Linked DNA regions of Homo sapiens. The protein of the gene in region 1 interacts with the protein of each later gene in a biochemical or structural test. Each region holds a gene or a part of one and is shown on either strand. Other genes may lie near its edges.

Region 1 (3,600 bases):
CTCATATTTATTTAAAATAAGCATACAAATCATAAAAGGTTGATATTTTTGTTTAATTTTAGGTAATAATTTCATTTGCAAATAGTATTTGGACCTTGCATAGTAAACTTTTTCAACTGGTGATAATGTACCTATATTTAGAATCATTTTCCTATACATTTTTAAACCTTTGGTTTTCCCATCTTGTTTAGTGCAAACCCTGAGGTTGTCAGGGAGGGTGCTGGTAGATATTTATACATGTTCATCCTTATTTTGTGTTGAAAAGGATGAGTCATTAGTTAGGCTTTAATTCCTTCAATGCAGTTCTCTAAACTTTCATGAATGTCTGTTAGTATTGTTCAAAGAAAAACTTTAGCCGAATTAAATTGAGCAAAGAACAATTTGTGAATCATGCAGTCTCCCAAGCAAGAGTAGGCTCAGAGACTCCAGCACAGACACGTTGTGGAAGATTTATAGACGGAAAAAGGAAAGTGACATAGAGAAAACGGAAGTGAGGTATAGAAACAGCCAGATTGGTTACAGCTCAGCATCTGCCTCATTTGAACACAGTTTGAACAGTTGGCCACCTTTGATTGGCCAAAACTCGGTGATTGGTGTAAGAGTGGGCTACATTGTGTTTACACCTCCATTTAGGTTACAGTTTATGATGTACAGAGAAACCTTTAGGCTGAACTTAAAATATGTAAGGAGGAAGCTTTAGGCTAAATTTAATAGTGTGATTCTTTCATTCTACTTTTAGTGGCTCTCTTGTTAAAGATTTATACATTCAAAAGCAAAAAAATCCCTCCTAAAATCCAGACCTTTTATTTTTATAGTTGGTCAGGGTTGACAAAGCTAGGTGTTAAATAACATTATAATACTTGATCTTCATGGCAATACTGCCATTCTGGCCTAAATACAGAGCTCTTGATGCCGAATCACCATGTGTCCTCTTGGTCAAAATCAAATAATCAAAAAAAAAAAATCAAGTATTAGATTGTATACTTTCATCTAATATTAGAAATGATTTATACCATATTCTTCATCTCATATGCTAGGATATTTTTAAAATTAGTAATCCAGGAATATTGTGTAAAACTTAGGTGTGAGAATAGGTTGCTTTAATTATGCTGTAATCCATGTGTGTTTAGACAATTACTTCTTTTAGTCATGTTTAAGTTTTGTTTCTCTAGCAATTATGTTAGCTGATAGAAAGATATCATCATGAAAATGGATGTTTATGATGTTTTTGAGGATATGGGTTATATCCTTATTTATATGTGTTTGTATGTTTATGTGTGTGTATATATCTATGTTTTTTCTCTACAGAAATGGAGAAAAAAATTGTTTTAGTTTTATAAGCCTTTTGTATTATACTTTTAATTTAGATGTCTATTTTCAAAATTATATGAGAGCAAAGTTTTAATATGTAAATAGCTGAGAGGATCATTTCTCAACTTTATATAAACTAGTAGAGTCAAATATTTAGCTTGAAATGAAGATATAGGAATGCATCTATTATACTCACTAATAGATTACTTAGAACCTGAGCTTGAAGTGGATCAAGAGGACGTGTCACTTGCTATCATAGAGTCATGGCACCACATTTATGCAGTTCATTTCCGCCATGTTTCTCCATTTGGCTACACTGAGCAACAGCAGAGGCTAAACCATTTATTCTCTCTCAATTTCCTCTCTCTCTCTTTCTCTCTCAATTTCCTCTCTCCATCTTTTACACACACACATATAGCTTCCCCTCTCTTTTCTTGTCTTTTCAGCATTAGTTTTGAAAATATGGTCCACATTCATACTCAATTTGGGAGCCCTTCACAGAAATTGTATATGATGACTCCTGAATGGCAGGCAGATTGATAGTTGATAATTGATAATGAGATCAATGCTATGCCTAAGATATCTCCTGCTCCCAGAATCTCAAAGATTCAGTAGGCTCTTCATGTGTTTCCAACCCTCCATCCTTGGCACAACTTCTTCCATGGTTCTGTGCATGGGAGTAAAACACTTCAAATATGCAGGCAAAGAACTCCTTCCTTGGGAGTGCTAGCAGACCACTGAGACAGAAATGAGATGACTGTCTCCATGCATGAAAACACTTTTTTGCCTTTTGTACCATCTCCCTTTGGTAGTATAATTTGAGACTAGCCATAGCAAAGTCTAGAACTAGCTTATTATTTTGTTTAATATATTCATTTTTTACATAATTGATCAGAAAACAATGAAACCAAACAGACTTTTGTAATGTTTTTCAAAGGACAAGTAACAATGTCACTTAATAGAATAAAATCAAAATTTTGACAATAATTTTTTAAAATCACTTTTTGTTTTAGCCATTCCTAGAAAAGAACTGTTAGGTAACTCTCTAAATACCCTGCCTGATATTAGAATAGAATTAGAAATTTATTAACACAGCAGAAATCGAGATATTTCTGCTGTGTTGGTAATCTCTTCTCCTCTCCCCTCTTTCTCCCTCTATCCTCTCTCTCTCTCAAAATCTCTTTTCCTCTCCCCTCCTTCTCCCTCTCTCTTCTTCTCCCTCTCCCTGTGTGTTTTCCTCTGTATCTATGCATACGTAGATATGTATGTATATATGTATCAGGTATTCTATCTGTTTATTATTCTTTTTTCCTGTACACAAATGGTCTTTGGACTTTAGTAGGTGTGAAGTTAGTATGAATGTTTTTAGTGATACTTAAAATAGCATTAATAGTATATTCCAATCAATTTTATGAAAATTTTGGGGCACCTTTAACATTTGGTACAACATTTTTCTATTCCTTATTGTTTCTTTCCTCAGATATTTTTGTCCCCCATAAACAGATTTTTTTCAAATATAATTTTTCAAATATAATTTTTCAAATATAATTGACTCAAATAAACCCTCAATTTTTAAACTATTTCAAAAATGAACTTTATGGAACCAATCCCCAAGGGCTTTTTGAGAATATGATGTGACTGTGTTGCTGGGGACAAAGGTCTTTCTTCACTGAGGCCTAGTATGATGTGTTTGTGATATTTGGGTTATGGCTACCAAGCCTGTGCAAAAAAACAAGGATTCCAGAATCACTCTCTGGGTGTGAGAGGGATATTGTTGTCACCAGTTGGGATAATTCTAGTCACAGTTATATTCACTTGGATAATTGTGCAAATGGCTTTAAAAATATTGTGAGATGATAATGAGAAAAAAAGTATATTTTTATATGATGGAAATACCTGCATCTGTTAGTCCTTTAAAATTAAGTAATGCATTTGATATAGCAAACACCAGCATTTTGAGTTATCTATTAATTTTTAATTGTGTTTAGTTTTAAGATTATCGGTATGTTATGAAATGTTGACTATATTTTCTCCTTCCTTTGTAGGTAACCCATTAACCCAGGAGAAATCAAGTGATCCTCAAGGCTGATGACATTGAACATGCGCATAGAAACTTAACTCAACTCCTGAGGTGATCTTGAAGATTTTTATACCACTTGAAAGAGGCGCTCAATAGTCTATTTCCAAGGGATTTCATGGCCTCTTCTTGAAATCAAGACTTTTTAAAAGTCAGACATGAACTTGCATGTCATGAAGATTTCAGCAGATTTGAACTGTGTTCAACTTGTA
Region 2 (3,835 bases), on another chromosome or scaffold:
AGGGCAGAAAATGTAGGCACAAGGGGACCAATAAATGAATGATCTATTGAGAAGCATCTGTGCATGAAATCTATTTATTTATGTATTTACCTACTTGTTTATTGAGACGGAGCCTTGCTCTGTCGTCCAGGCTAGAGTGCGGTGGCATGATCTCGGCTCACTGCAACCTCCACCTCCTGGGCTGAACTGATCTCCTCCCTCAGCCTCTCCAGTAGCTGGGATTACAGACCACAACCACCACGCCCGGCTAACTCTTTTTGCATATTTTCTGTAGAGAGGATGTTTCACCATGTTGGCCAGGCTGGTCTCAAATTCCCAACCTCAGGTGATCCAATAGCCTCTGCCTCCCAACACGCTGGGATAAGAGGCATGAGCCACGGGGCCAAGCCAAATTTTCAAATCAATAATAGATAATGCTGAGTGTATTATTTCAGGTGACAGAGAAGTTCTCACTAATCAGATATTTGTGACATTAATGAAAAACACGGATTGAACCCCTGAAAGATTGGCGGAAGGATTTTGCACACACAGCTGTCAGCCGTGAAGGCACAAAGGTGAAAACAATCTGATGTGGAAGGAAGAGGCTCTGACTCAAATGCTGGGAATGAGGTGGGGAGAATGACAAGATGACTGTAGAGAGACGGAGAGCACACTGGGTACACAGGAAACTAAGGAGCAACAAGGAGCGTGTGTTTGACACTCACAGCCATTGGATTCACCTCGAGGTAACCAGGAATCCCTACATGATTAATATGACTGACATGAAAATAAGGGAGGCTCAGTTGCATAACTGGAATCTAGGAGACCGTGGAAAAGGCAATTGCCGCCCCACTGGTGAAATGTGGTGCTGATTTAGACACTAAATGAATGAAGTAGATGGATATAAGATATGTTTGTGAGGTAGAATCATTGGCTGGAAAGGCTTGCTGGGTTTAATTTTTCCTGGTAGTTTAATCCTCGCTTCACTAACTTATTTCTGAGATTTATTTCTCCTGCATCTAAATCAATACCTGGCAGAGGAGGGAGAGCTAGATGAGGGGTGGTGCAAATGAAGGGACCTAGTATAGCATAATATACAAGGCTGTGAACGGTGGCTCACGCCTGTAACCCAGCACTTCAGGAGGCCAACGCGGGTGGATCACATGAAGTCAGGAGTTCGAGACCAGCCTGGCCAACATGGAGAAACCCTATCTCTACTAAAAATACAAAAATTAAACAGGCATGATGGTGGTGCATGACTGTAATCCCAGCTACTCTGGAGGAGGAAGCAGGAGAATGACTTCAGCCCTGGAGGCAGAGGTTGCAGTGAGTGGAGATCGCATCACTGCACACCAGCCTGGGCTACACAGGGATACTCTGTCTCAAAAAATAAAAATAAAAAATACATAAATATAATAATATACACAAATGATGCAGGCACCTGAATTCCAATCATCATTTTTCTATTCCTCTATAATTACTTCTTTGATCCTTTATCTTATCCATTAGAAAATCAGCCTAAAACCTCTTCCATATTTGGCTTTCTGTGAACATGAGATCATATGGAAAATATGAAAGCCCCCTGAACCCACCAGCACAGGCCCTGAAATAGGGAAAGTGCTCTGTTCATCACAAGAAACTTTCCCCCTCACCCAAATCCCCCACCTCACCCCTACTTCCAATCACCTGTGGAGATACAGATAGATCATGGGGAGGTAAACGCTAATACTCCTTGGAGTGAGTTCAGATCTTGGAATCAGAGATCAGCACCAGCACTAGCTCCTGCTCCCCTTTCCTACTAATTCACAGGAGGACAGGTGGTTTTGAAGCAATAGATGGTGGAGGGGGTGGTCTTTCCCCCAGCCTCTCAGGTGGAACAGCAGCCTAACATGTGTCTCGCGAGATCACAAAGAGTAGCACGTTTCACATGGGCTTCATCATTATTTCCTGGCTGTTTGACATAAGAGAATTCTACTTTGCTTTTTTGATCTTGATTTCACTTTTGTGTCCTTTTCTTGGAGAATGTAATTTGAGTCAAGAGGGTTGTGGATGTAGAAACTGTAAAGCACATTCACTGTGTATCAATCCCAGTCCAGTCTTTCCAGAGAAGACTCTAAACACCTGCTGTACTGCACCTGGGCCTATGCCAATTTCTATCACTCACCGTCACTCCAGGGAGACAGAACACACAGAGAATACGTTACATAGGCAGGTTCATTACTAACAGATAAGCAGCGAGTGACAACAGAAGCCTACATTTCAACGTGAGCCAGTCCCTCAAGGCTCAGAAAAGCTGCTCGGGACATATGGAGTCACCTCATTTGCAGTGTATCTGGGGGAAGCCAGAAAATAGCCCAGCCTGGGTTTTGTACCCTGAAGCCACAGGAAGCACTCAGCTAAAGCACTGCATGACGTCCTCCTCCAGGAAGAACAGGAAGACAGCACAGGCTGTTCTGAGACGTTCCTCCTGATCTCAGGACGTTGCTGTCTTAGTCCATTTTTGTTGCTATAAAAGAACACTTGAGCCTGGGTTACTTCTTTTTTTTTTTTTTTTTTTTTTGTATAGTGCTTCTGATGAGCTTTTTTTTAAAATTTTTATTATTATTATACTTTAAGTTTTAGGGTACATGTGCACAATGTGCAGGTTAGTTACATATGTATACATGTGCCATGCTGGTGTGCTGCACCCATCAACTCGTCATTTAGCATTAGGTATATCTCCTAATGCTATCCCTCCCCCCTCCCCCCACCCCACAACAGTCCCCAGAGTGTGATGTTCCCCTTCCTGTGTCCATGTGTTCTCATTGTTCAATTCCCACCTATAAGTGAGAACATGCGGTGTTTGGATTTTTGTCCTTGTGATAGTCTACTGAGAATGATGATTTCCAATTTCATCCATGTCCCTGCAAAGGACATGAACTCATCATTTTTTATGGCTGCATAGTATTCCATGGTGTATATGTGCCACATTTTCTTCATCCAGTCTATCATTGTTGGACATTTGGGTTGGTTCCAAGTCTTTGCTATTGTGAATAGTGCCACAATAAACATACGTGTCCATGTGTCTTTATAGCAGCATGATTTATAGTCCTTTGGGTTTATACCCAGTAATGGGATGGCTGGGTCAAATGGTATTTCAAGCTCTAGATCCCTGAGGAATCGCCACACTGACTTCCACAATGGTTGAACTAGTTTACAGTCCCACCAACAGTGTAAAAGTGTTCCTATTTCTCCACATCCTCTCCAGCACCTGTTGTTTCCCGACTTTTTAATGATCGCCATTCTAACTGGTGTGAGATGGTATCTCATTGTGGTTTTGATTTGCATTTCTCTGATGGCCAGTCATGGTGAGCATTTTTTCATGTGTTTTTTGGCTGCATAAATGTCTTCTTTTGAGAAGTGTCTGTTCATGTCCTTTGCCCACTTTTTGATAGGATTGTTTGTTTTTTTCTTGTAAATTTGTTTGAGTTCATTGTAGATTCTGGATATTAGCCCTTTGTCAGATGAGTAGGTTGCGAAAATTTTCTCCCATTTTGTAGGTTGTCTGTTCACTCTGATGGTAGTTTCTTTTGCTGTGCAGAAGCTCTTTAGTTTAATTAGATCCCGTTTGTCAATTTTGGCTTTTGTTGCCGTTGCTTTTGGTGTTTTAGACATGAAGTCCTTGTCCATGCCTATGTCCTGAATGGTAATGCCTAGGTTTTCTTCTAGGGTTTTTATGGTTTTAGGTCTAACGTTTAAGTCTTTAATCCATCTCAAATTAATTTTTGTATAAGGTGTAAGGAAGGGATCCAGTTTCAGCTTTCTACCTATGGCTAGCCAGTTTTCCCAGCACCATTTATTAAATAGGGAATCCTTT

The links.
Region 2: the proteins of TAFA2 (region 1) and KIR3DL2 form a complex in vitro, tested with the Homo sapiens proteins (one study listed by BioGRID).

Annotation. Positions count from the first base shown.
Region 1 is NC_000012.12:61,710,174-61,713,773, reverse strand, and holds part of TAFA2 (chemokine-like protein TAFA-2 precursor), read left to right. Parts: intron 1-3,356; coding exon 3,357-3,368; 3' UTR 3,369-3,600. UniProt on the Homo sapiens protein: Has a role as neurotrophic factor involved in neuronal survival and neurobiological functions.
Region 2 is NC_000019.10:54,860,286-54,864,120, forward strand, and holds part of KIR3DL2 (killer cell immunoglobulin-like receptor 3DL2 isoform 1 precursor), read left to right. Parts: intron 1-3,835. UniProt on the Homo sapiens protein: Receptor on natural killer (NK) cells and T cells for MHC class I molecules. Upon binding of peptide-free HLA-F open conformer, negatively regulates NK and T cell effector functions. Acts as a receptor on astrocytes for HLA-F.